Regions from separate parts of the Homo sapiens genome. Here all the other regions are linked to region 4. The links come from fine-mapping of genetic effects on gene expression. A gene starts in region 4. Each other region holds a variant in brackets. All regions are shown on one strand. Distances are from middle to middle.

Region 1 (8,079 bases), 710 kb before region 4:
TCAAACTCCTGGCCTCAAGCGATCCTCCCACCTCAGCCCCGCAAAGTGCTGGGATTACAGGTGTGAGCCACCTCACCGGCCTCTTGCTTTTAATTCAAATGTAATACATGCTCAAACTTTTGGTTTGAGTTATATAGAAGGCTGGGAGGGCAGGAGAGGAGGAGAAAAGGGAGAGTATATGGCAGTGGGAAGAGATTTTTGGACTTGGTGTTTGAGGTCCTGTGAGGTTATTATTCAAAGGTGAATTTGAACTTCTTTTTTTTTTTTTGAGACATAGTCTCACTCTGTGGCCCAGGCTGGAGTGCAGTGGCCCAATCTCAACCCACCACAACCTCCAACCTCCCCGGTTCAAGCAATTCTCCTGCCTCAGCCTCCCAAGTAGCTGGGATTACAGGTGCCTGCCACTACGCCCAGCTAATTTTTTGTATTTTTAGTAGAGATGGGGTTTCACCATGTTGGTCAGGCTGGTCTCGAACTCCTGACCTCAGGTAATCCACCCGCCTCGACCTCCCAAAGTGCTGGGATTGCAGGTGTGAGCCACTGCACCCAGCCTGAATTTGAACTTCTAAAGAGGTATAATTTGGTGCAAGATAGGTGGAGGTTAGACCAAAGGGAGCATTTTCTAGTGGTCCGGGTAGGTAGGTGCCAGAATAGAAAAAAGGAGGCCAGAACATTTTAGAGGTTTGAGTTAGAGGCTAGAGGCAGCTCAGCTTCCTGAATAAGCCTAGGTAGAGGAGCAGTTGGCCTGCGTGAGGAGGAGGGGAGGAGAGGCTGTGGGCGGGAGAGGAGAACAGTGGCGGAGAAGCAAGGCTGAGAAAGGGAAGGCAGAGCGGGAGGAGCCTAGGAGGGAGACCCTGAGAAGAGAAGGGAGGACATAGAGAGAGCAGGAGACAGGAGGAGGATGCGAAAAATGGATGATTGGGGATGGGGAGGATGCATGAGGGGAGAAGGGATTGACCCCAAGACCTCTGGGCTCTGGACATCATCAGGCAAACCTGGAGCTTGGGAAGAGAGGCAGGAAAGAGAAGGATCTTGGGCCCAGGCACTGCAGCCCCATGCCCTCTGTCCCTGCACTGTTGACTCAGCCCCTCCACACTTCCCCTTTCTTTCTACCATTTTCTGCCCCAAGCACCAGGCCCGTGCATCTCTTCCCCTCCTCCACCTCTCAGCTGCTGGCGTGGCCTCGTGGCCTCGGCTGAGTCAGTACTGGTCTCCTAGAGTCCGGGCTGAGTGCTTCCCGCTGAACTGTAATCCTCTGTCCCCAGTCCAGGTCCTCTGACTTGGGGCTTCTACCCTCAGCCATCTGGATCCTGATTTTTGATTTCTGAGAGCCTGGGAAACCTTGGAGGGAGTGGTCTTCTCAGCTTCTAGTCCTGCTCCAAGAGCGGAGGGAAAATCCAGAGATCAGAGTCACAACTAAGGAAGGTCCTAGAATAGTGGGAAGAGTGATATCCCCCTCTTCTCACCTTCTCAGGCTTTTTGGGAATCACAGGGGCTTGAAGAGGGACAGATTGGAGGTCAGGGAGAATGACTTGACTTGCAGAGGCAGGGGCACTGGGGGAAATGGGAGACAGCAGAGATGGAAAATGCGGCTCAGAGGCTCCGAGGAAGGTGTGCGCCATCTGCGGAGATCAACACTGAAGGATGGAGGGTAGATGTCAGAAAGGACTTCCTAGGATGGGAGAGACCAGTTGGGTAAGGAGCAATAGAGGAAACTCTCCTAGGTTTTAACTCTGGAAAGTAGTATGAGAGGGATAAAAGTTAGACTGCAGGAGAGATTTTCCGCTGGAAGCAACCAAGATGGCTGGCTGAGCTTCCTTACTTAAAGATCCCAGAGTGGAAGAGTGACCCAAAGGCAGCTAGCTGCCTTTGCCTCAAGGTTAGTAGGGGACATGCTGCCTCCCAGACAGGCCCTGTGTGCCGTGGCTGAGGGTTGGTGAAAAGAGTTAGAGGTCTGGGATCCTGACCCCTGGGTTGGGGGTGGCAGGGGAGGCATTCTGCCCCCTTCAGCCAATCTAATAAGGGGATCTCCTGCCCCCCCCACTGTGACTGCCACAGAGACAGCAGATCCAACACTGGTTGTCATGGTTATAAGAGGAGCTAACTCCCATAGATTGGAAAGCGCTGGTGAGCTGGCACCCTCCGCTTCGCCTGCTCTCCCCTCCTCTCTGCGCATCTTCCCCCTAGCACAGAGAAGAGAGTACAGCAGCTCGGGGGTGAGCAGAGCTAGGGCTGGGAAGGTGGAGTGAGGACGCAGAGACCTAGAGCCAGGGAGATGAGTGGCAACAGGAGGCAGCCCAGCCGTAGGGGCCAGGTAGGTCAGGGACCCAGAACCCATCCGGGCTGGCTGCCCCAGAGCCTGGCCTGGTCACTCCCGGACAGCTGCCTCTGACACCCAGTTGCAGGCTCTGCTTTAGGAACTGGTGTCTTTCCAGCATCCTCAGGCTGGCATTTTTTCCTTGCCTCTGCCCCCAGCCTGTCTCTCTGGACTCCAGGCACCCTGGCATTTTCCAGCCTCACTTCCTCTCCCTCTCATCCCTTCCACAGACCCGGGAAAAGGAGAAGATGAAGGAAGCCAAGGATGCCCGCTATACCAATGGGCACCTCTTCACCACCATTTCAGTTTCAGGCATGACCATGTGCTATGCCTGTAACAAGAGCATCACAGCCAAGGAAGCCCTCATCTGCCCAAGTAAGTTGTTTGGACCCTGAGAGTCACCCAGACTCGGTGCCCACTGACCCTGATCTTTTCATCTGTTTTTTCTGCCTGGATCCATGAGGGTCACTCTTCTCTCTGATCCCCAGCTGGGCCCAAATGCCAGGGCCAGTTGCTTGATCCCTTGCTCCCTGTCCTCACTCTGAGGGGTGGTGGCTGTTGGAATATGGCATAAGCCGGACTATCTGGGAATGTGGGGGAGGGGAGGCTGTGCTGGCTCCTCTTGCAGCTGTCATCCACCAGGCACCCCCCTTGCTCCCCGAACAGCTGCTAAGGGTTAGGGGAACTGATTGGAGAAGGAGCAGGAATGTTGTATGTGTGGAGGGGGTGGGGTGGGGGGTGACAGAGGAACTGGGTGGAAAGCTGCCAGCCTTGCAGCTGGCTCTGCCTGTCTTCCTGCGCAGAGCTGGGCATTCAGGACTTCACAGTCCCCTTGCCCCTTTCTTTCTATTGACTATGGGTGGAGCCTGAAATCTCTGCTGTTTCAAGCAGAAGATGTGATTAGGACCCTTCATCTCAAATTTCTAGTGAGAAAGAGGGAATGTAGCAGGGATGTGTGTGTTGAGGGGCAGGGGTTAGAATTCCTGCCCTTCATCCACATCTGAGTGTAGTCCTGTCTTTAGGGAGTATAAGCCAGGAATTCTTTCCTTCCCCAGTACACAGAGGGCTCCTGCTGCCCCCTCTCCCTCAATTCCTCCTGAAGTTATGGCAGAGATGCCTCTGATTAGAGCAGGATTGAAGGTATTGTGACCTGCTACTGAATAGCGGACAAAAGCTCTAGCCTGTAAATCCCTATGAAACTTGGGGAAGGAACCCCCAGAAAGGACCAGTGATGGGCAACCCGCTCGGGTCCCCTTCTACGCTGTGGGAGCTTTGTCATTTTGCTCTTCACAATAAAGCTTGCTACCGCTCAAAAAAAAAAAAAAAAAGAAAGAAAAGAAAACCAGTGAAGCCTCCCTACTTTCCTCACTGTTCAATTTAGAGTTGTGAGGATGAGGAGGGAACCCCAATCTAGATCCCTATAGAGACCTGACAAAATTCCCAATCCGGAAGCTTGTTGCCAGGGGAACAGGGGAGGCGGGCAGCACTATTTTGAGAGCAGGTGGAAAGCGGAGGTTCAATCCAGAGACACTGAGTGTTGGGGGTAGGAGAAGGGAGCTCCAGGGGGGTGGGGGCAGCTGCAACCCCCACTTCTGTCTGCCCCCTCTGCTCCACCCTGTTTGCCTTGTATTTGTGGAAGTGAGCGTGGTGCTGGGTATTGTCTGAAAGAGTTAGCAGAGTTTCCGGTGTTGTTGGATGGGGGAGGGGAAGCTGGAGAGGGCCGGGAGCTGAGGGCATGTCTGGGAAGGGCACGGCCAGGGTCCCAGTGCCTAGGCTCAGCGAATCCTCCTTTCTTCTTCTCTCCTACCCCATGGCAAGGTGGGGTGGAGGATGGCGGAGAAGCAGATGGAGTGTGGGAGCTGTGGATTTGCCTGAGTTGGGGGAACAGGACTCCCTGGGCCTGGAAGGGAGAAGGCCAGGCTTGGTGGGGA[G/A]TTGCCTGTCCCTTCTTTACCACTGGAGCCATCAATCAGCCTTGGAGCTGCTGAGGCCCAGCCAGAGTCCAGGGCATGTGGTGCGAGGGAAGGAGCACGGCCTTTGGATTCAGGCCCACCGGAGTGTAAACACCACCTCTCCCACTAGCCGTGTGACCTCTGATGGACGATTTAGCCACTCCAGGACAGGTTCCTCATACATGAAATGAGGATAACTGAACCTCCCTCTACGGGTGGTTAGGATTAAGTAAATGTGGAACATTTACTATTATAAAAGCTCAGGGAATGTAAATTTCCCCTCTGCCCCTAGCCCCCATTCTGGCTGCCTCTGTGCCATCTTCTGTTCTGTGGGAGTCCTCTCTTCCATCTGCCATTCGCAACCACCTTCGTGCTTCTTGAGCTCATCTCTGGCAGCCAGTGACCCCTGCTCCCCTCTGGTCCGCCCTTCAGGCCACCTTGGGGTCAGGATTGCCCATCCCACTTGATTGTTTAATTTCATTCAGCACCTATACCCCCCTCACTTCATTTCCTGCTTGAAGGAAGAGGGAGGTGGGAGGAGAGGGACTGGGGTGTGGTAATGGCCCAGAAGTCGGGGAAGGGGGGAGAGTCCCCGAGGACTGTGTGGCCAGGAGGAGATGGGTGTCTGCATGTGGGTGTGTCCCCTCCTGTACCACCCGGCCCTCCCTTCACCCTCTCTACCCCACCCTCCCAGCCTGCAATGTGACTATCCACAACCGCTGTAAAGACACCCTCGCCAACTGTACCAAGGTCAAGCAGAAGGTGAGACGGCAGGGAGGGCAGAGGGCTGGGGGAGAGGGTAGTGAGTGTGCGGTACCCTCATGCCTTTTCCATTCATTCCCTACCCTGTGTTTCTCACCACCCACCTCCTCACCAAGGGGCAGCCCAGACCCTCAACCCCAGGCCTCGGGCCCCAAGTAGGCCAGGCCTGTTGCTGCAGACATGTCCCCACAGCACTGGGCTCAATCACCCTGATCCCCTTAACCATAGTGCCAGCTTTCTCCTAAGGGGGCCGGCCACCTAGCTCCTGTCCCATGCCTCTGGGGGTGATCCTTGGGTGACAGCCATTCTTGGTATCTCTCTCCTGCTCTCTGTCTCACAGCAACAGAAAGCGGCCCTGCTGAAGAACAACACCGCCTTGCAGTCCGTTTCTCTTCGAAGTAAGAGTGAGTAGTTGGGGAGTGGAGGAGGTCCCCTAAGACCCTGGACCCCAGGCTGCTCAACCCATGGGCTCTGCTGCCCCACTAAGGTTGTTCCCAGGCATAGCACCTTCCTCTTCTTGATTGGAAGCAGATAGTGGGGGCCTAAGGGAGGGTTCGGACTCTTGGACTTAGAGGCAGAAGGGGAGAGAGAGTCCGAATGGGGATGAGGGCTGGGGATGGGTGGTCGCCTGAGCCTGGCCGCAGCCTGCATTTTTATCAGTTATTTACACTGCATTTCGGGAGTGTTGGTAGCAGCTGTCAAGTGTCAATTCAGACAGCTTTGGTGTAACAGAAAGAGCATGGCCCTTAGGTATAAAGAGCAGAGCCTCAGTCCCTGCCTAGCCATTACCCAAGTCACCCTGGACAAGTCTTTTTGTCTTTCTGAGCTCCTGTTTGTTTATAGGCTTATGTCAGGGAGGAGATAAGTAAGAAAAAGCTCTTTGTGAACATTAGAGTATGGCACAAATGTAAGGTGGCATTCTCATTACCATCTTTCTTGACTAGAGGGGCTGAGGTGGAGTGAGAGGATGCCTCATTCCTCATTGAGGAGCCTAGGAGGCCTCAATCCTGGGAAGCACCAGAGTCTGATGTTTGCCTGCTGGGCATCTCTCCCCCACAGCAACCATCCGGGAGCGGCCAAGCTCGGCCATCTACCCCTCCGACAGCTTCCGGCAGTCCCTCCTGGGCTCCCGCCGTGGCCGCTCCTCCTTGTCTTTAGCCAAGAGTGTTTCTACCACCAACATTGCTGGGTGAGCCTCTGTTTGGGGAAAGGGGCAGCCAGAGAGTGTGGCAGTGGAGGCCAAGGGGGTGCTGAGAGGTCCCTTTCCATCCCTGAGTTCAGAACTGTAGACAGACAAATAAGGAGAACTTAGGGGGACCGCCTCTTGGATCCTGGCTTTGGTTCCCTACCTGGGAAGGGATCTTTTGCCCGACTGGGGGTGATGCAGACAGCCTCCACTTTCTTCAGACATTTCAATGATGAGTCTCCCCTGGGGCTGCGCCGGATCCTCTCACAGTCCACAGACTCCCTCAACATGCGGAACCGAACCCTATCCGTGGAATCCCTCATTGACGAAGGTGAGCAGGCCTGGGCCCAGGGGAGCCCTGAGGAACATGAAGAGGGGCTGGGGGATGAGAGGCTGGTGGGAGTAGCCTGGAAGGACAAGGAGGGAAGGGATCTAGAGAAGGGCCAGGGACCCAGGGAAGGGAACTCAAGACCTCTGAGTTGCTTGCCCTGCTAATGTCCAGCAGAGGTAATCTACAGTGAGCTGATGAGTGACTTTGAGATGGATGAGAAGGACTTTGCAGCTGACTCTTGGAGTCTTGCTGTGGACAGCAGCTTCCTGCAGCAGCATAAAAAGGAGGTGATGAAGCAGCAAGATGTCATCTATGGTAAGCCAAGACCACCCTAGTCTTCCTCTTCCTTCACCAGGTCCTGTTTATCTACTTCCTTCTTTATTTTTCTTTTTCTTTTTTTTTTTTTTTTTGAGATGGAGTCTCACTCTCTCAACCAGGCTGAAGTGCAGTGGCATGATCTCGGCTCACTGCAGCCTCCACCTCCCAGGTTCAAGCGATTCTCATTACAGGCGCCTGCCACCATGCTGGCTAAGTTTTGCATTTTTAGTAGAGACGGGGTTTCACCATGTTAGCCAGGCTGGTTTCAAACTCCTGACCTCAGGTGATCTGCCCGCCTCAGCCTCCCAAAGTGCTGGGATTACAGGCGTGAGCCACCGTACCCGGCTGTGTCCTTCTTTCTACCAGCCCCTACCTCTCAAAACCCTTTCCCTCTTGGCCTACAAGACCCTGCCTGGTATCCCACAGGTTGCCCACTAGGTCCCTACCTCTTGATGCTGTTGGTCTCCAACACCCTCTCTTTATCCCTTCTTTATCTCTGTCTTCAGTCTTTACTCTGTGCTTGTTCCACGCTTAACACCGTGCTGGAGACTGTGGGAAGCCTCGACATGTAGAAGACATATGGTTCTTACCCTAAAATAGCTCACAGCTTGAGATGATAAGGTGTAAAGATAAAAAATGGAACTGGGCGTGGTGGCTCATGCCTATAATCTCAGCGATTTGGGAGGCCGAGGTGGGAGGATCACTTGACGCCAGGATTTTGAGACCAACCTAGGCAACAAAGCAAGACCTCTGTCTCTAAAAAAAAAATATATATATATATATATGTATATATATATATATATATATATATATATATTTTTTTTTTTTTTTTTTTTTTTTGAAGCAGAGTCTTGCTCTGTCGCCCATGCTGGAGTGCACTGGCGCTATCTCGGCTCACTGCAACCTCCGCCTCCCAGGTTCAAGCAATTCTCCTGCCTCAGCCTCCCAAGTAGCTGGGATTACAGGCGCCTACAACTACACCCGGCTAATTTTTGCATTTTTAGTAGAGACAGGGTTTCATCATGTTGGCCAAGCTGGTCTCGAACACCTGACCTCAGGTGATGCACCCGCCTCGGCCTCCCAAAGTGCTGGGATTATAGGCGTGAGCCACCGTGCCCAGCCGTCTTTAAAAAATATTTTAAAAAACTAGTCAGGTGTGGTGGCATGTGCCTATAGTCCCAGCTACTTGGGAGGCTGAGACAGGAGGATCGCTTGA
Region 2 (8,000 bases), 130 kb after region 4:
CCAGCACTTTGGGAGGCTGAGGCGGGCAGATCACTTGAGGTCAGGAGTTCGAGACCAGTCTGACCAACATGGTGAAACCCCATCTCTACTAAAAATACAAAATTAGCTGGGCGTGGTGGCAGGTGCCTGTAATCCCAGCTATTTGGGAGGTTGAGGCAGGAGAATTGCTTGAATCCGAGAGGTAGAGGTTGCAGTGAGCAGAGATCACACCACTGCACTCCAGCCTGGGCGACAAGAGTGAAACTCCATCTCAAGAGTAATAATAATAATAAAATAAAATAAAATAAAACCCATCAGTGGCGAGAGCCCTCAGGATAAAGTCCAAACTCCTTATCACCTTTTAGTTCCCCCATGGTCTGTTCTGTCCACCTCTCCAGGCTCACATCTCCTCACTTCCTGTGTCCCTCCAACTCCAGCCAGGCTGAGCCACAGGAAGTTCCCTGAAGATGTCATGCTCCCTTTGTACGTGTGCCTTCATGCCTGGCCAGCTCCTCTGCTTGTCCTGAGCTCTGGGACCATCTTCCCCACTGAGCCTTCTCTGAGCCCCATAGCCTGGCAGGTGCCCAGGTCATTTTCCCAAGGCCCCTGTGTTCATGTCTACTGTAGCACACTGTTCTAAGGGTCTCTTAACCTATGTGTGTTTCTTCCCAGCTTCCTTGAGGACAGGGGCTCTGTAGTGTTTTATTTATCTTTGTGCTCATAGCGCTAAACAGAGTGCCCAGCACATAGTAGAAGCTCACTCACATTGGGATGTAGATGAATGAAAATAGAATTCAAGATCGGAAGGGGCCCTCTGCTGCTGGACTCTACACCAAGCATGTACCCAAGCATGTATGTAATGGCAAAAAAGAAACACAGACACTGTCCCCTCACAGGCACTCACAGATGTAGTAGTAGCTGTGTCCTTCTTTGAACTCCTTGCCCAGGGTGAAAGGTGTGAAGCGCTGGAACTTCTCAGACAGCTTCTCCGGGCCATGCTTGGCACTGGGCCGGTTGCACTGCCAGCGGACTTGGTCCTTGGACTGGGGCTGGCACAGCTGGTACTCCTCATGCTCCACCAGGTACAGTATGTACTGCTCCATGGCAGCGTCTGCCACAGAGTGATCTTCATAGTGCGGACAGATGATGTCCACGTAGTCATTCAGCTGCACATGTATGGTGTAGTCCTCATTCCGGAACCTGGGGACACACACAGGGGGAAGAAGCAGGTGGTCATTCAGAAGCCAGGCCAGATCCTTGGGCCTCTGAATGTTTACATGACCTCTCACATTTCACACTGGACCCCAAGAGATTTTTCCGAAGTTTCAACTCCCAATATGTACTGATCTTGATGTCTTACATTTCTCTCTGCCATCTCTAAACATTCCCCTGCACCATCACTGTCTCCTGTTGGTCCTTCAAATAGCATTCACTCAGTATCTTTCGGGTACCAAAGCATTTTCCATAACCCCCCTGATACTTACCTGATATTTAGATGGGCTTCTACCTATTTCTGTAGCTCACTTATCATTCTCTTCTACCCATAAATATTTCCCCAAATCTGTTCTACCAGTTGCTCCTTTTAAATGCTGTTAGGCCTCAATCTGAGACCCCCACAGGTCCATTCTGTAATCAGAATCCAGGAAACCCTTTCTCTTTACCATGCTAGCCTGGAGCCTCCAACACATCTGTGTCTTCACTTTCCTTACTCCTCTCACATTTCCCCGGACCCACTGAGTAGATCTCACATTTCCCAGCTTCACTTTTCCTCAAAAGTGAAGCTAGTATACCCGGGCCCACAGATAATGCCCCAGTCCTTTAAGTTAAATCACTCTCATCAATTCATTCAGCCCCCTCAAATCTTCCCGTTCTAGCTACTCAAAGTTATACACTGGTCTCCTTTTCCCCTTCTCAGAGCACCCCAAAACAACCCTGTCCTTTTATCTCTAAAAGCCACACTTCCACCTCCCCCTAGATGAAATGCTGGAGCTCTGAGCTTGAGCTTGAGACAGCCTCTCCCCTCTCCCCTCTCTCCCCTCTCTCCTCCTCTCCCCCTCTCCCCTCCTCTCCCCTCCTCCCAAGGTGGAGCCAGCACCCCTCCCCTAGTTCATTCCCCCTGGCCCCACCGGCTCCAGCCTGACTGCCCACCAGCCCCTCCCCACCAGCTCCAGACACCTGGCTCCAGCCTGGGTGGGGTCCCAGTAGGGGGAAAAGTGCTTCCCCCGACCCCGCAAGCTGGTCAGTTTCTCTAATTCCCCCAGGCACTGCCAGCTAGAGACCCAGCAGAATTAGCGCTAAGTTGCTTCGAACTGAAAGCCCTGGCCACGGCTGGGAGGGCGAGGAAGGAGTCAGGCAGAGAGGACTCGGAGGTGGGCACCCACTGCCCAATCAGCATGACCCCTGAGAGGCCAGGCTTTGCAGCAGCGTGCCAGCGCCCAAACTGGGCTTACCAGGCCCCTCCCCCACCCTGGGGAAAAGAGAGGAGCAGAGAGAGGCTTTTAAAATTCCTCTCTGGAGAGATAAACATAGAAGCCATTTCAGAACAGGTATTTCAGCTCTGGGCCTGGCGTCTTTCCCTCATTCCCGTGACGGGCACTGACTCATTCCTCATCCACCTCTGCTACCCGCCCCAGCACTCATGAGAACTTGTGAAAACTTACCTTGTCAAATGTGCACAGCCCCCAGGACCCCAGGAGGGCACAGCGCCCACTCACCCCCAACAGTGTCCTCCAAACAAAGGGAGCTGGCAGGTCAGAATGAGGGGCCTGCCCTCCAGCATGAGGGAGGCTGGCGCCCTTCTCAGCATGCTGCCCCCGCCTGAGGCCTGGAGATCCCAGGGCTGCTGCCCACTGGCCTGAGTCACCCATGCCAGCCTCACCTACCCCGTTCATTGTAGCCTCATATTTGCCCCCACGCTGGGCCCAGCTTGGCTGCCTACGGACTCTACTCTGGACTGGCGTCTCTTTAGTCCTGGGTATGATAGGGTGTGCGTGTGTGTGTGTGTGTGTGTGTGTGTGTGTGTGTGGCCAGAGGGTCACCCATCAGCCCCCTCTCCTGGGGGTACAGTCTGCTGTACTTAGCCTTCATTTGACTCTTGCTCCCCATCTGGGAAAGGGGGGCAGCGGCGTCAGGGAAGGCGGGGAGGTGGGTAAGGAAGAGGCTCCTTCCTGAAAGAGAGGAAACCTGGGAGCTTGGGAACGGAAAAGGCCAGGGTCCCCCCCTCCCTACTCATGGCTTCCTGTCCCCTCCTCCTCCTCCAGTCAACACCTGGCATGGGCATAAACAGGGACTTTGCTCTCTCCCATACTAGGGCGAGATGCATCAGGTCAAGGAGGCAAAGCACAGGGAGCGGGTGGCGGAGGGCTGGCTGAGCCTCCCCAGCGTCCATGGGCAGGAGGGCATTGCCCTCTGGGGTTGGCAGCTGGCTGTTCTCTCCCCCACCCTAACAAGCCACAGACAACAGACTGCCTCACCAGACGATGACACGGGGTCAGAGGAAGCTGGCACAACATATTTCTCAAGGGGAGTGGGGGGCAAGCTTGCTAGGGCCGAGAGTGGCTAAGCCGGTGAGATGGCTTTCGTGATACCAAGCTGCCCACTTCTCTCCCTGCTCCTCCCTACCACCCTCTCCTGTATTCCCTCAAATATTGTTCCCATAACTTCAGAAAACTCAAGGGCAAGAACAAAGGGGCCGACAGAGTCTTCCTCCCAGTACCATTTGCCTCACAGCCCTAAACCTGCCCAGGAGAAATTAACTCCTTCCTGCCCAGAACCTTCTGTAACCCCTTTAACCTCTTCTGTTCATTCTGAAGCTTTCCCATGATCTCCCTCTCCCAGCTCTTCGCTTTTACTACTTGAGAGCCCCATAAACAG[G/A]TGATTCCCTCAGCCTACCCATGCACAGCATGTGCCTCACTCATGCCACCCCAAAAGACCCCTAGTGAGGGACTTTCCAGGTTTGCTTTAAATACAGGGTGAATGCATAATGAATGCCTACAGCCCAGCTCTCTCCTGAGAGGTCCTTCCAGGGTTACCTTGAGCATTCTGTGCACTCTTGATGTCACACCAGGTATCTGTCAGTGTGGTCAGATACCCAAAGGACACACAAGGAGAGGCGTGGAGGCTTTCACAGTGGGGGGGTGGGGGGCCTGGAACAAGGGCCCTGGCTGCCAGGGGCGAAGTCTATGCTGAAGGCAGGAACTGCCCAGCATGAGTCCCTCACTTTAGAGTAATAGGGGTGCCAGAGAGAAGGAAGGGAAGGGCAGATATAAGCCCATGCAAGTAGACACAAGCATGCCCCGGGGTGGGGTGCTCCCAGATATGACGGAGAAGTGAGGGGAGGAAAATCTACAGCCGCCCTCCTACCTCGGTCATCTACTCTAGGCTCAGCTCAGGGTTTGGCCGGGACAGTTATCCCGGTGGGGTAGTGCCAGCCGGGAGCCCAGGCTGCCAGCGGGAGTCTCGAGGCTTACTTGGGATTTGAACTGTTCCAGAAGACGGTGTGGCGATCAGCAGCGGCCAGACTGCAGCACAGACCCAAGAGAGGGGCCCAGAGGAACTCCATAGCGCGGGGCCTGGCCAGGCCGAGCGGGGACGCGGGTCTCCTATGGGTCTGGGTTCCCACTGGCTTTCTCCGCGGCGCAGTCAGCGCTGGGCTCACAGATCTGGCCCCTTCGCCTAGCGACTCCGCCTTTTGGGCCGGCGCCGCCCGACACCCCGCCCCGCCCTCGCCCCGCCCGGCGCGCGGCTGCCTGGGGGCTTGGGGGCTGGGGAGGTGGAGGAGGGGCGGGGTGGGGAGGCGAGGAGGCTGGGGGTGCAGGAAAGAGCGAAGCGCGCTCCTCTGCCCCCGCAGATCTGCTCAGAGATGTGTGTTCGCTCACTTGTGGGTCTGCGTGGAGCTTTGTGAGCCTGTCCCGGTGGTGGGCTTGCGTCCCTGGGCGCAGTCGCGTGCGGGAGAAGGGAAGAACTCGCAAGTGCGAGTCTGCGAACGCGGGGGTGCGGGACACGGCTTTGCTGCTCCGCGCGCGGACCTTGCAGGGTGCGAGGTTGTTGACATGCCCCGCACCTTTCTGAGCCTCGCATGCCCAGGCTCGGGCGCCCGCGTTCCCACACTCTCCTCCTCCCCCATCCCCTTCCCGGACTCTGCGCTTGACTGCCCCTCCCCACACACACGCGGCTGTTTGTTTTTGTTGGGTTTGTCAATGTTGTCTTTGTTCTGGAGATTGTGTCATCGCCTAGATGCCGGGAATAAAGTGCAACGCTTTGTGTGATCGAGTGTGTAACGTGTGCGGCCGGGGCTAAGGACGCCTCTGTCCATCACATCAGTGCCTGCCCGCAGGAGCGACACGCGGGACCCTGGGCTCGAGAGGGGGCCGTTCTTATTTTAGATAAGTCAAAGAGCGCTAATAACCTGAGTATATGTAACAACACACGCGTACACCGTGCGAACAGGCTCTTGAATATGGACTGTGAGAATCTGGGCATGAAGGGTGACAAACTGTAACCACACATGAAATACGTGTGATGGCGCGCTAGCATGAAAGCATTTGTGAGTAGTATCACAGCCGCGTGTGTGGAAGCGTGTGAAACTCTTTGACAGACGTATGCTAATGTTTGTGAACAGCGTGTGAAGAGGAGGGGAGACGCGTACCGGCGTGCAGCGGGGGTGGGGTGGAACGGAGGGGCGTTTGTGCGCAGTCCTCAGGCTGCACAGCTGGAGCTGGCCCAGTCTGAGCTGGGGCTCCCAGTCAGTCGGGCCCCAGTACCCGGCTCAGGCCCCCTCCCCCGCGCTGTGTAAACAAACCCACTGGAATTTGCCTCTCGGGGCTCTTCTCCCCGCCTGGATCTGCTGCCGTCTGGAGAGGGCTTGGCGGGCGGGTGTCAGCTCCTGGGGTGGAGAGGGCGGGCAGGTGTTTGATTAGGCTCACGAGTGAGCCTGGAGTGGGAGAGCCGAATGCTGTGTGTCTGCGTGCGTTTGGTGGTTTACGTGTGTGGTTGTGTGGCTGTGTGCGCGCCAGGTTGGTGTTGTGAGTGTGTGTGCGCATCCTCAGCCGGCCCTTCCCTGCGGCTGCGCATCGCGGGAAGCCACGGACCCGGGGCCCCTGGCCAGCTCCGGCCCAGCTTCTCCAGTTCCCAGGCCGTTTCATCCTCCTATTTTACGGCCAGGCCTGGCTACAGCCCCTGTAATTACGCGGGGCCCGGACGCCGCAGCAAGTCTGGCGCTGACCCCGCCGGGGAGGAGCCTGGAGCTGGGGAGGGCCCAGCCGGCTCCCCACTGCACCACCACGTGCGCTGAGGCCGCTGGAGGCCGTATTCGCTGCGTTTACAATAAACATAGAGTACCAACGGCCTCTAACCCCGTGGCCGGGTCAGGGCCGGGTTTTGCGCACGGCCAGCGCCACCCCCCTCTCCCTCGGGCACCTGCCCCAGGCGACGTGCCCAGCCAAGCGTTTGTCCGAGGTGCGGCCCGCTCCTCTCGCCCAGGACGAAGTCCACCCGCCGACTGCTCCCAGGGCGGCACCTCACGCGCCTTTTGCTCACCTAGGAGGACACCTGGGTGTCGACCTCCCACGTGGCCCCGGCGAGAGTACTGCCTCCCAGTTCGGGCATTCCATAGAGTCAAAGCTCCAGGAGGACATGGGTTTTTGTTTTGTTCATTATCTTACTGCCAGCACCTGGCACAGCATCTAGCACATACAGTAGATGGTCAGTAAATATCTGTGGAGTGAGTGAAATCACTCACTGTTCAGTGAAGGAACTTAACTTCTGCTGGACATAACTGTTCTGAAAAGGAGCCAGCAGGGGGGTTGAAGAGGGGAGGGATGCTGGTAGCTCTTTAGAGCAGGTGGCCCGGGTTGCCTCCTGGAGGAGACAGCTTTGGGCCGGATTCCCTGGTTTCTCTGACCACTGGGACTGGGCGGGGACGTGTGAAGTCCCACGCTGCAGCTGCTTGGGCCAGGCAGGTTCGGGCTCGCTGGGCCCAGTCTGGCGGGGCCACGTCAGCTCTTGCCTGCGTCTAGGTCTGGAGCAAGCTGGGTGCAGAAGCGTGCATGGAAATTCTGCGCACCGACAGGACCCGGAGCCCTCTTTCCCTGCTTTGGTGCTGTCCCCAGTATTCTCATCTCACTTAGGGCATTGATCCCATCACTCTCTATCCACTCCCCTATCCATATGGGGGTCGATCATCCACCCTACTGGAGCAGCCCTAGACACTGAGTGTTGTGATGAGCTGGGTGTTGCGATGGGCACCGAGAGTGTAAGGATGGGTTTAAGATAAAATCACTACCTTGGGGAGCCCCCAGGCCGGTAGGGGATATTGACAAGCCACCAGGACAGCAAACTTGCTAAGTGCTCAAGCCCAGACTGCGGCCCTACCACTCACAGTCACACTACCCTGACCCTTCCTGGAGCCCCTGCAATGCCTGCTGTGCTGAGAGGAGAGTTGCAGGGCACTGTGCCATTCAGACAGAGATAATAGTAGGGACTTCTGTTCCTGGAGACTCGATCTGCTGACCAACTCTGGGGCCCCCTCCCAGTCCCTTCCTCATGCCAGCCCCCAGCCTGCCCGGGTGGGTCTGCTCTCCATTCTTGCTTCGTGCTGCCTCTCGCCGCAAAATTGTGTGCTTGTGTTGGCTCCCAGCACGTCACCCGCAGGCAAACATCTGCGCTTAGTGACGAGAGCTGCCTGAGGTGTCTGTCTGTCTGCCTGTCTGCATGTCTAGGAAATTCCTCCATGAGTCCTTTCTGGAAATTCCTGGGAGGGCAGGAATTTCCTCAGAGGAAATTCCTCTGAGGTCTTGGGGTAGGCCCTGGCTGCCTGGAGGCAGCATTTCCAGTTGGGAACAGGTGCAGGTACTGGATTGCGACTCCTTTGCTGGGTGCCCTGCAGTTTGGGGAGGGGAAGGCCAGAGCTGCAGGGCCCTGGGGCAAGTGAAACCTGGCTCAGCCCCAGGGGTCATCTCTGGGCAATGGGGTGAGGCAGCAGGGGGAGGAGCAGAACCTGGGCTGAGAGCAATCTCTGTCGT
Region 3 (8,065 bases), 260 kb after region 4:
GACTTTTAACTATTAGAGTTCTTTTTTTTTTTTTTTTTTTTTTATAAGACGAAGTCTTGCTGTGTCACCCAGGCTGGAGTGCAATGGTGCAATCTTGGCTCACTGCAACCTCCACCTCCTGGGTTCAAGCCATTCTCCTGCCTCAGCCTCCCAGGTAGCTGGGACTACAGGCATGTGCCACCACGTCCAGCTAATTTTTTTGTATTTTTAGTAGAGATGGGGTTTCACCATGCTGGCCAGGCTGGTCTCGAACTCCTGACCTCAAGTGATCCACCCACCTCGGCCTTGTCCCAAAGTGCTGGGATTACAGATGTGAGCCACCGCGCCCGGCCTTTTTTTTTTTTTTTTTTTTTGAGACAGAGTTTCATTCTTGTCCCCCAGGCTGGAGCGCAGTGGCATGATCTCAGCTCACCGCAAACTCTGCCTCCCGGGTTCAAGTGATTCTCCTGTCTCAGCCTCCCAAGTAGCTGGGATTACAGGCACTCACCACCTCGCCCAGCTAATTATTTTTAGTAGAGATGCAGTTTCACCATGTTGGCCAGGCTGGTCTAGAACTCCTGACCTCAGGTGATCTGCCCGCCTCTGCCTCCCAAAGTGCTGGGATTACAGGTGTGAGCCACTGTACCTGGCCTGGCCTAAAGTTCTTTACTCTGGGCATATATCACCTTTACAAAAAGAATCTAGAAAAAAAAAAGAGTTAACTAAGAAGAAGGCTGAGGAAGAGCTGGTCCCAGGCAGGGAGGAAGAGGGCACTATCTATAATCTCCAGGCCAGTGCCCCAAGTGACAAAGGGCTGGGGGATGATAACTGGCCCCCCAGGAGGGGCCAGAGAATGCTGGATGGGAATCCCAGGGAAATACTGAACAGTCCCAAACAGGCTGGCTCTGAGGTTTGGGGGGCTGTGGGTGGGCAGATCAGTAAGCATAAGCACCCCCTGAGCAAGACGATACACATGGCTGGTGTATATCTACCACCGGGAGTAACTCATGGAAAATACCAGCTGTGGCTACCAAGAGGAAGTAAAGAGCCAATTCTGCTCAATCTAGCTGTTTATGTCCTGATAGGGCTGTGTCATGATAAGCCTGAGGGACCTGTGTGGCCACACAGGTGTCTTTCTCTGGTAACTTTGTATGTGAGCTGGGAGCTCTTGTAGCTCATGGGGTCCTACTTCCTTGATGAGCTGGGGACTAGCCTCAGCGCAGTGCTTTCCCCAAGATCCTCAGAGGCAGGAAGCTGCCTGGACCAGGTCTTCTATTTGGGAAAGGGCTGGGTCCTCTGGGTTTCCACACACCCTTGGCCTCACAGATGAAGACCCTACTCAAGCTGGGTCCCCTCCTTACCCACAGATTGAGAGGAACCTGAACTGTCTTCCACCCTCCCCACTCAGGAACCAGTGAGTCAGAAAACCTGGCTTTCAATCTTGGTTCTATTCAGGACAAGCTCCTTCCCTCCCTGGTCTGCACCCTTGCTCCCAGACCGTTCTAGTGCTGACTTTTTCTGATTCCCCTTTAGACACTTATAATCTTGGGCCTCAAGGCCTATGGATTATATTTATAATTCAGTGATTCTCAAACAGGTTTCTTAGGGGGCAGTCCATTCTTGGTACTATGAGGGTATGGTAAGATCAACCATCTGAGCTGGTGGGCTCACTGTGCCAAGCTTGGAGGAGTGCCAGGTCTTGCCACAATCTTACTGGGGTCCTAGCCAGAGCAGTCCAAGCTCCTGCCCACCAGAGGTCCACCAGAGGCAGGGGTTGGGAATGAAGGAGGCTCAGAGATGAGGCAGGTCTGCTAGATGACACAGCTCAAAGCAGGATCCACACTTTACTGTTTACTCATTGTTTATGGCCCATCCTTGGTCAAGCACAGCTGGCTTCAGGAGTCTTGATGGCAATTGGGCTGGGGGCTAAAGAAGAGAATGAGAAGCTAAGGCAAGCTCTGCCACAGAAGCTGCAGCTATGCCTCCTGTTTACTCTACCCTGCCCACCTGAGCGATGCCAGCCATGGTGCTGGTGGGGAGAGGAGGCAGTTCCCTGCTACCATTAATCCAGCAGTTCCTTGATACACCAGCAGCAGAGGAGGATGTAGGCGACTTCCTTCAGGGTCCGCTGGAAGCCCTCCCACCCTGTGCCCATCTTAATGACAGGCACCCGCAGCCCAGTGTCTCGAGGGGCCCCTCCGAGGAAGAAGGGTAGGGTTTGGGCTAGGGGCTGTGTCCGGGGCTGCATGTGGGCAACAGTTCCGAGGAAGGGTGTGGGAGCTGCCTCTAGTGCCTTTTATCAACACTGTCCCCACCCCCTTCAGCCTCATGACTACAGAGACAAAGGATCCAGGGTCTAGCAAAGGGAAGGTTCTAGGCCTGGGAACAGGCTGAGTCAGCCCCTCTAGACAGGGATGGGAGGGTGGGGTTAGTGGGAGGGAGGGCCTGGCCACTCCATCTTTCATCCTCCACAGCTAGGCCAAGGCAGCTTCCCCTCTTCCAGCCCAGGTGGTGCCCTGCCTGATTGCCCTTTTCCCAGTGGTTGGCACAACTCCTGCTTTCGCCCTCTGGTGGGCTCCTGCTGAGGCTGACATTGAGAACCATCAGTGAGAGCTCCTTTCCAGCCTGTTCTGCCCTGCCCCTGGGCCCCTTAGAGTGAGCACAGCCAGTCAGAGCTGGCAGCATTTGACCCACTTCTGCTTCTCCCATCCTCTGGAGCAGGAAGACACAGCTAGAGCAACAGGCACAGTGAGAGGCACGGTTTATTGCCAGGTTATACCCTAGGACGGTGTCCTTCCCTCCCTCCTAGGGTGGGAGGTCATGTGCGGGAGTTCCGCTCCTCTTCTTCGTTCTCCAGTAGATAGGCTGGACGGTATGTGGGGTGTCCTCCTGGGCTCAGGCACTTCAGGGCCGGGTTCCGCACGGTATTCTCCCGACTCCCCAGTGATGTGTATCTGGAGCAGGGAGGGTGGAGGGCAAGCATGTGGTAGGGTGGGCGATCCTATTGGCCCTCCCTATCCCAGCACCCTAAAAACTCCCTTACCCATTCCCTTCCCCTAATACCCTTACCCTCGGTCATACAGGATACAGTATGGGACAAACAGCTGACGCAGAAAATCCCAGATGTCTCTGTAGGTCCAGTCCTGGGAGGTCAGAGTAATAGAATAGTCACAAATGCTCACCTTTCCCACTTCTACCCCTGCTGTCCTGGGAAGGGGCCCATCCATGGCTCTTCTGCTCCCTTGGCCTCTGAGGGAGGGCTTGCTATCTGATTCTCTGGTATAGCTTGCTCTATGTATGCAAAGAGAAAGAGAAGGACTTCATCTTCTCCACTCTCTGCTTTCCATTCTTGAACCACCCTCTAGTGCAAGGGTGGAGCTTGAGGACAGGGAGAAACCGTCTATTTTTTTTTTGAGACGGAGTCTGGCTCTGTCGCCCAGGCTGGAGTGCAGTGGCGTGGTCTTGGCTCACTGCAACCTCTGCCTCCCGGGTTCATGCCATTCTCCTGCCTCAGCCTCCCGAGTAGCTGGCACTACAGGCGCCCACCACTGTGCCCAGCTAATTTTTTGTATTTTTAGTAGAGACGGGATTTCACTGTGTAGCCAGGATGGTCTCCATCTCCTGACTTCATGATCCGCCCGCCACGGCCTCCCAAAGTGCTGGGATTACAGGCGTGTGCCACCATGCCCGGCCCTATTTTTTTTTTTTTTTTTGAGACGGAGTCTTGCTCTGTCACCCAGGCTGGAGTGCAGTGGCGCGATCTTGGCTCACTGCAACCTCCGCTTCCCAGATTTAAGCAATTCTCCTGCCTCAGCCTCCTGAGTAGCTGGGATTACAGGCATGCGCCACCACAGCCGGCTAATTTTTGTATTTTTTTAGTAGAGATGGGGTTTCACCATGTTGGTCAGGCTGGTCTTGAAATCCTGACCTCGTGATGTGCCTGCCTCGGCCTCCCAAAGTGCTGGGATTACAGGCGTGTGCCACCGTGCCCAGCCCTATTTTTTTTAGACAGGGCCTTTACTGTTGCCCAGGCTGGAGTGCACTGGCATGATCATGGCTCACTACAGCCTCGACTTCCCTGGCTCAAGCGATCTTCCCGCCTCAGCCTGAGTAGCTGGGACTACAGGCATTGATCAGCCCACCTCGGCCTCCCAGAGTGCTGGGGTTACAGGTGTGAGCCACTGTGCCTGGCCAGAACTTCCTGTGATGATGGAAATGTTCTGTATCTCTACTGTCTAATATGGTGGTCATTTGAAATGTGGCTAGTACAACTGAATAACTGTATTTTTTTTTTGTTTGTTTGGACGGAGTCTCACTCTGTTGCTCAGGCTGGAGTATAGTGGTGCCATCTTGGCTCACTGCAACCTCTGCCTCCTGGGTTCAAGTGATTCTCCTACCTCAGCCTCCTGAGTAGTTGGGATTACAGGTGCCTGCCACCACGCTCCGCTAATTTTTGTATTTTTAGTAGAGACTGGGTTTCATCATTTTGGTTAGGCTGGTCTCGATCTCCTGACCTCAGGCGATCCACCTGCCTCAGCCTCCCAAAGTGCAGGGATTACAGGTGTAAGCCACTACGCCCGGCCTGTGTATGTGTGTGTGTATATATATATATACATATATATATATAT[AT/T]TTTTTTTTTTTTTTTTTTTGAGACAGAGTCTTGTTCTGTTGCCCAGGCTGGAGTACAGTGGTGCCATCTCAGCTCACTGCAACCTCCGTCTCCTGGGTTCAAGCAATTCTCCTGCCTCAGCCTCTCGAGTAACTAGGACTACAGGCCACCACGCCTGGCTAATTTTTTGTATTTTTAGTAGAGACAGGGTTTCGCCATGTTGGCCAGGCTGGTCTCGAACTCCTGGCCTCAAGTGATCTGCCCACCATGGCCTCCCAAAGTGCTGGGATTACAGGCGTGAGCCACTGCGCCCAGCCAGAACTGAATTTTTAATTGTACTTAATTTTAAAAATTGAGGTATCCACATACCATCAAATTCATCCTTTTAAAGTATATAATTCAGTGGTTTTTAGTCATATGTATTTCATTCTAATTAATTAAAATTTAAGTATAAATAAATAATTAATGGCTATATTGGACAGCACAAGTCTAAGTCACTATTCTATCCACAGTAGGAAGTGCAATGCCTGCTATTGAATTTGGGCTCAATAAATATTGGTCAAAAGGATGAATGAACAGATAGCACTGCCTCCCTTGGATGATGAGGCCCCTTCATCCAGGTTCCAGGCTCTAGCCTCCCCACTACTGCAGGTGAGCTAGGGTGCAGTGACTGCTGGGGCACGTGAGACTGAAGGTGATAAACCCTCTTCCCCATTACCAGCAGTGGGTTGATGCGCATGAATGCGGGCCAGCCTGGGTCAGTGGGGCTGAAAGGGCAGAGGCTACAGGAGTAGGGGTCAGTCCGGCGGGTGCCCATAAGGACAGCCTCCAGCTGGGGGTGCCGTGCCTGCAGTTCACCCAGGGCCTGCTTCATGCTGCCCTCAGCTTCCAACATCTGCAGATTATACCTTAGGAAGAAACAGAAGTAGGGGTCGGGCGTGGGCTCTGTCAAGCTTCTCTTGGAGCCCAAACCTCCAGGCCCCTAGTACCTCTTGATAGTGTCCTGTAGAAACTGTTCCAGCTCAGGGAAAGGGGAGATGCTGCGGATATACAGGATCTGGAGGGGGTTTGGAACATCAGGTAATTTCCTGCAGAGGGGGAAGAATCCACAGGCTTGTGAGCATGGACAAGGAAATGGCTCCCCTGAAACAGCTCACTGTTCTCGTTGGCCCCTAGGACAGACTCTCACCCCTTCTCCCTTTTCCTTGTCCTTTCCATCCATTAGACCCACTTCCTCTGGGAAGCCCACTCTGACCTTTCACCTCTCAAATCTAAGCACGCATCCCTGGTTCAGGTATGTAAATCTCTCATCTCCCCAGCAGGACTGTGACCTCCCTGTCGTCAGGGATAGTGGCCTGCACATCCATACACAAGGCCAGGCACATATCATATACTCAATATGGTGGGAGAATGGAACTGAGAGGTCACCATGACTATCTCCCTCTTGAACTCCACCTGTACACCCCCTTTCTCCTTGCTTTCTGGGATGTGGAACTGGAGAAACAGATCAGGGGTCTTGTCTCCCGGGGGCAGGCTCACCTCTGCACAGCTGCATGGAAGAGGTGCAGGAGGGCAGTGCAGTCTTTGCCCCCGTTGAAGCCCACACAGAGCTGGGTGAGGCTGTACTGAGCCAGGGAGGTCTCAATGGTCTGTAGGGCACCTGCCACCTTTTTCCCCAAAGAAGACCCTGCCAAGCAGGCAGGGAAGAGGGCATCAGATGGACACATATGGCTATCAAAGGGGAGTGAAGGCATGCTGCCCTTGCTTAAACCCTTCAATATCTTCCCAGTGTTCTGAGGATAAAGTCCAAACTCCTTCATGCTGCCCGCTAGGCCCTGCAGTCTGCCCCTGACCTGCCCTGCCATCTGCCACCCAGCCACACCTCACAGTAGCCTCAGTGTCATTCCTCTGTAGCAGGGGGTGTGGGGTGTGGGCTTCCTTCCATTCCCTAACCCCATGCTGCTTCCTTGCAGGCCCTCATTCATACTGTTGGCTCTTGCCCACCTACTGAACTGATCAAATCCTCCTTATCACTCAGTTTATGTCATTTGGCCTTCTCTGACCCCAGATCAAGGCTGATCTCCCTGCTGTGGGAGATCACTCCTTTCATCACCCCATGCAGGATCACCTGTTTAATGTCCATCTTTTTTTGTTAAAACACTGGTCCATAAGAGCAGGGCATACATTATCCTATTGAGCCATATCCCCAACACCTAGCACAGTGCTGATGAAAATAGGTACTCAATCAACATTTATTGGAAGAATAATGAATTAACAGAAGCTATCTTCTGCCCTCTCAGGGATTTGCAGGAAGCACCCAACAGCCCCTGCATTACTGAGATCTGGGGTGCCACCAATGGCTTTGGGCATAATGCCCCTCCTCCATAAGGTCCCTACCTGATTCAGCGAGTTTGTATACAGCCTCACTGGCCTGCTCCACAGCGTTGGGCATGTAGGGGACCAGCGATCCCTGGGGCAAACGGGCAGTCAGGTAGGCCAAGCATTCCTCCAGGGGTCCTTCTTCCTCTGAGTCTAGAGTCAGCTTCACCTGATAGTAGTTGCTGCCCCAGTCAGGGTAGGAACCCAGGCCAAGCCTACGTCCAAAGTGGGCCTGGGCCTCAGCCAGAATGGGGGCGATGGAGGCTTCATCAGCAGCCACATATAGCTCCTTTGAGTGGAACTGAACAGCTGGGTTTTGGAATAGTCCCTTCATCCCCTCCAGCACCCGCCGCAGCAGCTCTGGAATGCCTGGGAAGAGGTAGACGTTTCGGACGGAGACCAGAGGGAATCTGAAAGGTTGACCAGTGCAAGGATCTGTGCCATAATGCAGGCGGGCAGAGGAGGGCACCAATGATAGCTTCTCCCAGCCTTCCCCTCCTAGGGCTTTGGTGGCTGCTTCCAACTTGGGGTGTGGCTTCAGCTCATCTCCAAAGGCCTGTGCCACTGCCTCAAAGGTCACATCATCATGAGTGGGGCCGATGCCCCCTGCTGTGAGGACATGGGTGAAGCGGTTGGAGAAAGAAGTGACCTCAGCTGCAATGGTGGCTACCTCATCAGGTACAACTGAGACTCGGCAAACCTGGACCCCTAGGGAGCGCAGTGTCCGGCACAGAAAGAAGGTGTTGGTGTCCTGAGTGTGTCCCTGGGGGTTGAAGGGGAAGATGAGGCCATCAGTACTGTAGGGATGAAGGGGAGGGGTTGAAGATGATGGCTGCATCCACCTGATGATGCAGTGCTCTGCTCTTTGAAGGACACCACCTCAGGCTGCTGAGGGGCCTGGACTGGACACAAGAGTGGGAAAATCCATTTGTTTGGTTTTAAAGCTGGGTCTCTGTCACCCAGGCTGGAGTATAGTGGCTCAGTCACAGTTCACTGCAGCCTCAACCTCCTGGCTTCAAGGGCCACCCCAGCCTTCCGAGTAGCTGGGACTACAGGCGCGTGCCACCACATTCAGCTCATTTTAAATTTTTTTTGTAG
Region 4 (8,077 bases):
GTTCAGCCCTGCTTTTTCCAGGACATCTCCATGGAGATCCCCCAAGAATTTCAGAAGACTGTATCCACCATGTACTACCTCTGGATGTGTGAGTAGTGAGAAGCCTTTTGGAGGAAGTTACAGGTAGATCTCTTAACTGCCCTGGGGTCCGCTCACCAAGAACCAAACACTTCACCTCTATTTAGAACTCACCAGCCTGCTAGCAAATGTTCTTGCCCTCTCCCCACTTTTTATTGTCCATATGCAGGAATATATTTTGAATTCTTTAGATGTCTTTGGGCTGGGTGCAGTGGTATACGCCTGTAATCCCAGCACTTTGGGAAGCTGAGGTGGGTGGATAACCTGAGGTCAGAAGTTTGAGACTAGCCTGATCAACATGGAGAAACCCCATCTCTACTAAAAATACAAAATTACCTGGGCGTGGTGGCACATGCCTGTAATCCTAGCTACTCAGGAGGCTGAAGCAGGAGAATCACTTGAACCCGGGAAGTGGAGGTTGCAATGAGCCAAGATCATGCCATTGCACTCCAGCCTGGGCAACAAGAGCAAAACTCCATCTCAAAAAAAAAAAAAAAAAAAAAAAAAAAAAAAAAAAGGCCGGGCACGGTGGCTCACACCTGTAATCCCAGCACTTTGGGAGGCCCAGGTGGGCAGAACATGAGGTTAGGAGATCAAGACCATCCTGGCTAACACGGTGAAACCCCGTCTCTACTACAAATACAAAAAATTAGCCGGGCGTGGTGGCGGGTGCCTGTAGTCCCAGCTACTTAGGAGGCTGAGGTAGGAGAATGGGCGTGAACCCAGGAGGCAGAGCTTGCAGTGAGCCGAGATCCTGCCACTGCACTCCAGCCTGGGCGACAGAGCGAGATTCCATCTCAAAAAAAAAAAAAGAAAAAAAAAAATTAGCTGGGCGTGGTGGCGGGCGCCTGTAGTCCCAGCTACTCTGGAGGCTGAGGCAGGAGAATGGCGTGAACCGGGGAGGCGGAGCTTGCAGTAAGCTGAGATTGCGCCACTGCACTCCAGCCTGCGCGACAGAGCCAGACTCCGTCTCAAAAAAAAAAATGTCTTTGCAAGGGGATCACACATTATTGACATTTGCTTTCTCCATCTCCCCTGTTGAGGATTCCATGAAGGCAGCAGCTGCCTTCATTTCCTTACTCTGCCATGTTTGGTGAATATTATAGGATGAGCATAGATGGGAAGGAGCCTTCATTGCAGTCCAGAAGGGCTCCTCATCCTGTCCCTCTGCCCCTTAGGCAGCACGCTGGCTCTTCTCCTGAACTTCCTCGCCTGCCTGGCCAGCTTCTGTGTGGAAACCAACAATGGCGCAGGCTTTGGGCTTTCTATCCTCTGGGTCCTCCTTTTCACTCCCTGCTCCTTTGTCTGCTGGTACCGCCCCATGTATAAGGCTTTCCGGTAAGTGTGTTAGTGGTGGGAGAGTGATGGAGACCTGGGATGGGCCCCACGTCTGCCCATCCTTCAGCTCTAATTCTTCTCCCACCCTCCCCATTTTTTTCCTCTTTGTAGGAGTGACAGTTCATTCAATTTCTTCGTTTTCTTCTTCATTTTCTTCGTCCAGGATGTGCTCTTTGTCCTCCAGGCCATTGGTATCCCAGGTTGGGGATTCAGGTTTGTGAGGCTGTTATCCACCCTCACCTTTCCCTCTAGATCCAGCCAGCACTGGGTGCTGGGATAGGAGTTGTTCAGAAAAAGGAAATGTGGTTTTAATCCTTGGGAGGTACTAGTTTAATGAGATACAAGACATACTTCCAGGATAGAGCGCAGACAGCACTCTTGACACATATAGATTGAAGGGAAGAATGCTGCATTTGGCCAATCTAAGGTGGCTTCCTGGAGGAGGCATAGAACCATGGTTGAAAGGAGGAAGAAGAATCCCCAGATGAGTGCCTGGAAGAGCTTGGAGAGCTCAGGGCTAATGGTTCAGAAACTGGAATTAAACTATGAAGAGATTAGATACAGTTTGGGATTGTGGTGCTTGGAATGCTGCTCGATTGACAGGGAGCCACTGCTGATGGGAAGGGTAGGAACAGGGGATGCTGGTGACATAACCAGTGGAGAAGCTGAGGAGCCCCTCTTCACTGGTACATCCTTCCCTTTACAGTGGCTGGATCTCTGCTCTGGTGGTGCCGAAGGGCAACACAGCAGTATCCGTGCTCATGCTGCTGGTCGCCCTGCTCTTCACTGGCATTGCTGTGCTAGGAATTGTCATGCTGAAACGGGTGAGGGCTGTGTCGAAGGTGGGGCCGGGATGGTGAGATCATGGGTCCCCAGGGGCGTGGGTGGAACATTCAGGAGCAACTGGCACAGGTCAGGCTGCTGGGTTGTTCTCAGCTAATGGACCTCTGGGGTGTGTGTTTCTGTGTGTGAGTGTGTGTGCTGGGCAGCAGGCTGCTGAGTGGTAGTGATGCTGTTAGGCTGGGGTGGGGAACCAGTGGCTGGAATGGGCGGTAATGTCTTTGTCCTCTACTTGCAGATCCACTCCTTATACCGCCGCACAGGTGCCAGCTTTCAGAAGGCCCAGCAAGAATTTGCTGCTGGTGTCTTCTCCAACCCTGCGGTGCGAACCGCAGCTGCCAATGCAGCCGCTGGGGCTGCTGAAAATGCCTTCCGGGCCCCGTGACCCCTGACTGGGATGCCCTGGCCCTGCTACTTGAGGGAGCTGACTTAGCTCCCGTCCCTAAGGTCTCTGGGACTTGGAGAGACATCACTAACTGATGGCTCCTCCGTAGTGCTCCCAATCCTATGGCCATGACTGCTGAACCTGACAGGCGTGTGGGGAGTTCACTGTGACCTAGTCCCCCCATCAGGCCACACTGCTGCCACCTCTCACACGCCCCAACCCAGCTTCCCTCTGCTGTGCCACGGCTGTTGCTTCGGTTATTTAAATAAAAAGAAAGTGGAACTGGAACTGACATCCCCGTTTCCTGAATCTTCATTGGGAATTAGGCCTTATGAAAGAGAAAGGAGAGTGTGGAGTGAGGTGGGAAGGTCGGACCCGGCTTTAGTGTAAACTGGGAGATATGAGGGGCGGGGCGGTGGAGCCCGAGTGGCTGGCGCAGGAAGGAGGTGGGAAGTCCACGGAAACGCGAAACCCGGAGACGCCAGGGAGCCCTGCTCCCCACCCCTCTCCATTAATGACGGGGAAGAGCCACCGCCTCTGCCGGGAACGCCAAGGAATACGCGGGCCTGGAGCCTGAAAAGCTGGATGGGGCTCAAGTGGAGGCCCAAAGGATCACTAGCAGCCTAGCCAGGGTCCAGAGCGAGGCAGGGACTGGAGGAGCGCTTATCCGACTGCCTCGCCCTGCCGCGGGATCCCCCAACCCCGACAGGGTCTCAGTCCCGAACTACAACTCCCGGGGTGCACCGCGCCGGCCCTCGCCGCCATGCCCCTCCTTCCCGCACCATCCCCATTCCCATCCCCCTTCTCTAGTCCCCGACCTGCGGCAGCCGGAGCTCGGGGAGCGGAGCGTGGTGGGGAGGGGAGCGGGACAGGCGACACAGGAGACAGCGGCGCCGCGGCCTCTCCCCACCAGGCGGCCCCGGATCCTACTGGACGCCCTGAGGGCACACCGACCGCGCCTCTAGAGTCACCCCACGCCGACCCCTCCCCTCTTCTCTAGACTTATTTCCATCCTTCCCGCTTTTACCCTCCCCACCCCTCCCTGGGCTCCAGGCCGCCGCCCCCTCCTCACTCCTGGACCGGCCCTTCTCGGTGCCCCTCTTCCCTAGGGAGATGCGATGAGCCGGTGCCCCCGCGTCCTCATCGTCGCCCCGGGCACGGTGCCCGTCCAGTGCCCGTGGTGGGGAGGGAGCACTCCGCGGTCCCTCCGTGACGCCCCTCGCTTGGCCCCCCCCACAGCTGGCGTCCCTCGGCCATGCCCCAGGGGACCCAGCCAGGGGGTGGGCTCTAGAGCGAGTGGGGTGGAGAGGAGAAAGGACGGGGCCTTGGGCGCCTCTGAGATGCTCCCAAGTGCCAGGGAGGGCCGAGCGAGGCGCAGGCAACCGGGCAGCAGGCATGATGCCCTCGCCTAGTGACTCCAGCCGCTCGCTGACCAGCCGGCCCAGCACCAGGGGCCTTACCCACCTCCGCCTCCACCGACCCTGGCTGCAGGCCCTGCTTACGCTGGGGCTGGTCCAAGTGCTCCTGGGCATCCTGGTGGTCACCTTCAGCATGGTGGCCTCTTCCGTCACCACCACCGAGAGCATCAAGAGGTCCTGCCCGTCTTGGGCTGGGTTCTCGGTGAGTTGGGTGCACAGTTGTTGGGTGGGGGAGGCTCCTCGGGCCCCACCCTCCACACCAGCTGCAAGTCCACATGCTTGCCTCTCCTCCCTCTCCTGGTCCTCTGCCTCCTTACAGGGCTGGGTGCATCCTGTGGTGAGGGGCTCACTCAGGAGCCTCCCCTGCCAGGCTGAGCCTGTGCCCACTCTGTCCCCAGCTGGCGTTCTCCGGGGTGGTTGGCATTGTGTCCTGGAAGCGGCCATTCACTCTAGTGGTAGGTGCCAGGGTCCAGTGCCCACTGGGAGGCAGGTGCCCAGCACGCAAGGGGAAGCCCATTTATGTCCTCAAGAAGGGAACTGGCTCCCCAGTTGGTGCCAGCCGGGTGGGCACGAAGTGTCTGTGAAGGAGGGGGACTCTGTCCGTGGCAGAGGAGTACTCATGAGGGTCCCAGCCCTGAGTCTGCACCCTGTTTTCCCCAGATCTCCTTCTTCTCCTTGCTTTCGGTGCTCTGTGTCATGCTTAGCATGGCTGGCTCTGTTCTCTCCTGTAAGAATGCTCAACTGGCCCGAGACTTCCAACAGTGCTCTCTGGTGAGATTTGAGGAGGGAGAGCTGGAAAGAACTGGCTGGGGGAGGTGTGCAGGACACCTCAGTTTGTCCTGACTCAGGCTGCCTCACCCTCCCTGCTCCACTCAGGAAGGAAAGGTCTGTGTGTGCTGTCCCTCTGTTCCCCTCCTCCGGCCCTGTCCAGAGTCGGGGCAGGAACTGAAAGTTGCCCCTAACTCCACCTGTGATGAAGCCCGAGGGGCCCTCAAGGTGAGCTTGCACCCTGCAAACATCCTCCTGGTTCTCACTCTTGCCTCCCCTGCTGGGGTACTCACAGGCCCATAATGTGTGGAACTTAGCCGTCTCCTGACTCCTCTCCTCCTTTCCCTTCCCCAGAACCTGCTCTTCAGCGTCTGTGGGCTCACCATTTGTGCCGCTATAATCTGTACACTCTCTGCTATTGTCTGCTGCATCCAAATCTTCTCCCTGGACCTCGTGCATACGGTGAGAAGGGAGCAGGGGCCAGGGCACGCAGGTATGGTGGGGGCAGGGGTGTGTGTGCTGAGACTTGCCTGAGGGAACAATGGCTACAGATCTGGCTTTTGAGCACCAGGGGCTATGGGTTATCTATTATCCTCATCTATTGGAGGAATGGATGTTTAGTGGGGAGGATGAGAAGGGGAGATGGCAGGGAGTGAGTTAAGTATGTGATGCTGGTCTGGGACCAGGAGAGGGTGCTTTAGAGAATGGGACTGGATGGTGGGGTAGAGTCAAGAAGGTCCTATGCTGGGCACGGTGGCTCATTCCTGTAATCCCAGCACTTTGAGAGGCCCAGGCAGGCGGATCACCTGAGGCCAGGAGTTCAAGACCCACCTGGCCAACATGGCGAAACCCTGTCTCTATTAAAAATACAAAAATCGGGCCGGGCGCAGTGGCTCGTGCCTATAATCCCAGCACTTTGGGAGGCTGAGGAGGGCAGATCACCTGAGATCAGGAGATCGAGACTATCCTGGCTAACATGGTGAAACCCCATCTCTACTAAACATACAAAAAATTAGCCAGGCGTGGTGGCGGGCGCCTGTGGTCCCAGCTACTCGGGAGGCTGAGGCAGGAGAATGGCATGAACCTGGGAGGCAGAGCTTGCAGTGAGCTGAGATAGTGCCACTGCACTCCAGCCTGGGCGACAGAGCAAGACTCCATCTCAAAAAACAAACAAACGAAATACAAAAATTAGCCAAGTGTGGTGGCGGGTGCCTGTAATCCCAGCTACTTGGGAGTCTGAGGCAGGAAAATTGCTTGAACCGGGGAGACAGAGGCTGCAGTGAGCTGAGATGGTGCCACTGCATTCCAGCCTGGGCGACAAGAGCAAGACTCCGTCTCAAAAAAAAAAAAAAAAAAAAAAAAAATATATATATATATATATATATATATATATATACACACAAAATTACAAAAATTAGGCTGGGCTCCGTGGCTCATGCCTGTAATCCCAGCACTTTGGGAGGCCAAGGCAGGAGGATCACCAGATATCAGGAGTTTGACACCAGCCTGGCCAACATGGCGAAACCCTATCTCTACTAAAAATACAAAAATTATCCGGGTGTGGTGGCGGGTGCCTGTAATCCCAGCTACTCGGAAGACTGAGGCTGGAGAATCGCTTGAACCTGGGAGGCAGAGGTTGCAGTGAGCTGAGATGTAGCCATTGTACTCCAGCCTGGGCGACAAGAGTGAAACTTCGTCTCGAAATAATAATAATAATAATAATTAGCTGGGCATGGTTGCACACCCTTATAATTCCAGCTACTCAGGAGGATGAGGCATGGGAATTGCTTGATCTTGGGAGGTGGGGGTTGCAGTGAGCTGAGATCGCGCCACTGCACTCCAGCAACAGAGTCAGACTCTGTCTCAAAAAAAAAAAGAAGGTCCTAGATGGAGGTGAGGCTAAAGGGTGGACATTCCTGTGAAGACACAGAATGTGTGGAGCTTCTGGATGGAGGTGGGGCCATAAAGAGGAATTTGTGGGTGGGCAGGGCCAGAGCTAGAGGTACAGGGTGAGCGTGGGGTTAAGGAGAGCTGATTTTGGGTGAGGGAGGGGCCAGAACAAGAGCTTCTCTCAGGGGATAGGGCCAGAAAAAATAATGTAGATGAGAGAGGAGTTTGGGGGCCCAGGAGGAGCTGTATTCCCAGAATCCAGACTTGCTGACCTGCTCGCTTCCCCAGCAGCTGGCCCCTGAGCGGTCAGTCTCAGGCCCACTGGGACCTCTGGGCTGCACGTCCCCGCCCCCAGCCCCTCTCCTACACACCATGCTGGACCTGGAGGAATTTGTCCCGCCTGTGCCCCCACCGCCCTACTATCCCCCAGAGTATACCTGCAGCTCAGAAACAGATGCACAGAGGTAAGGCCTGGTGGGGTCTTGCTGGGGGAGCTAAGGAAGGGGACTGGGGCTGGGCCTGGATTGCTGGAGAGAGGGATCTTTGTGGAGGGGGAATTATTTCTCCTACATTGACCCTCTTCCTCATCTGCCAGCATCACGTACAATGGCTCCATGGACAGCCCAGTGCCCTTGTACCCTACCGATTGCCCCCCTTCTTATGAGGCAGTCATGGGACTACGAGGAGACAGCCAGGTGAGAGCACAGCACGGCTTGGGGCGGGCTGGGGAGCCGGGTTGTAGCCTGGAAAGCTGAACAGGCTGTAGCCTCTGGATAAAGATAGTAACAGTGGTCAAGGTCTTTACAGCACCAGCATGCCCACTGTTGCCTTTGATCTTCCCTAGAGCCTGGTGAGGTGAGTGGGTTGGAAGCTATCATTTCTGCCATACAGACGTGGAAGCTGAGGCTGCACAATTAAGTGACTTGTACAAAGGGACAAGGCTGGTCTGGAATCTAAGTCTCCAGAGCTCTGTCTAGCACATGGGGGTGTTCAGTGTGTAGGGCTGAACCCTTGACCCTGTGTCTTCTGCAGGCCACTCTCTTTGACCCTCAGCTTCACGATGGCTCGTGCATCTGTGAACGAGTGGCCTCCATTGTAGACGGTGAGCAGGGCGTAATGAGGGGTGGACAAGGGCGGGGCTGCCAGGGATAGCTGGGGTGGGTAGAGACAATAGAAGGGGAAAACAAGGCGGAGTTGGTGGTTTGGGGACATAGGAGGGCTGTGGCAACTTGGAACCCTGGACTTATTTTTCTCCTCTGAGATAAAGCTGGAGGCACAGTGGCCCCTAGAGGCTGGGCTTGGGAGAAGAGGAACTGCCTGGGCAGGGCTAGGCCAGGCCAGGCTGGTGCTACACAGCGCC

What was found. PIP is the estimated chance that this variant, and not a neighbour inherited with it, causes the effect.
Region 1: its variant is fine-mapped to the expression of ENTREP3 in whole blood (TOPMed, PIP above 0.99).
Region 2: its variant is fine-mapped to the expression of ENTREP3 in whole blood (INTERVAL, PIP above 0.99).
Region 3: its variant is fine-mapped to the expression of ENTREP3 in whole blood (INTERVAL, PIP above 0.99).

The regions. Positions count from the first base shown.
Region 1 is chr1:155,963,769-155,971,847 of GRCh38, reverse strand. ARHGEF2 (Rho/Rac guanine nucleotide exchange factor 2) reads left to right here. Exons shown (of 22, transcript NM_001162383.2): 2 at 2,548-2,692; 3 at 4,961-5,028; 4 at 5,369-5,432; 5 at 6,088-6,217; 6 at 6,436-6,545; 7 at 6,717-6,860. Among named protein-coding and RNA genes, the nearest start is that of ARHGEF2, 11 kb to the left of the region's middle. RefSeq lists enhancers at 1,013-1,062, 1,073-1,252, 1,303-1,402 and a silencer at 3,520-3,751. The variant G/A (reference allele first, on the strand shown) is at 4,249.
Region 2 is chr1:155,124,518-155,132,517 of GRCh38, reverse strand. EFNA1 (ephrin A1) reads right to left here and starts at 4,642. Exons shown (of 5, transcript NM_004428.3): 1 at 4,449-4,642; 2 at 884-1,179. The coding sequence starts at 4,540. RefSeq lists silencers at 4,692-4,751, 7,531-7,825 and enhancers at 5,948-6,787, 6,788-7,627. The variant G/A (reference allele first, on the strand shown) is at 3,853.
Region 3 is chr1:154,987,770-154,995,834 of GRCh38, reverse strand. It overlaps FLAD1 (flavin adenine dinucleotide synthetase 1), which reads right to left. Exons shown (of 7, transcript NM_025207.5): 2 at 6,986-7,730; 3 at 6,128-6,275; 4 at 5,578-5,676; 5 at 5,307-5,496; 6 at 3,049-3,122; 7 at 2,724-2,933. The coding sequence ends at 2,798. LENEP (lens epithelial protein) reads right to left here and starts at 2,249. Exons shown (of 1, transcript NM_001394530.1): 1 at 1,520-2,249. The coding sequence starts at 2,227. The coding sequence ends at 2,042. The variant AT/T (reference allele first, on the strand shown) is at 4,608.
Region 4 is chr1:155,250,837-155,258,913 of GRCh38, reverse strand. It overlaps ENTREP3 (endosomal transmembrane epsin interactor 3), which reads left to right and starts at 3,431. Exons shown (of 12, transcript NM_006589.3): 1 at 3,431-4,261; 2 at 4,458-4,514; 3 at 4,720-4,830; 4 at 4,936-5,055; 5 at 5,182-5,289; 6 at 7,009-7,181; 7 at 7,313-7,412; 8 at 7,750-7,819. The coding sequence starts at 4,037. It overlaps SCAMP3 (secretory carrier membrane protein 3), which reads left to right. Exons shown (of 9, transcript NM_005698.4): 5 at 1-88; 6 at 1,257-1,416; 7 at 1,528-1,629; 8 at 2,123-2,240; 9 at 2,495-2,933. The coding sequence ends at 2,641.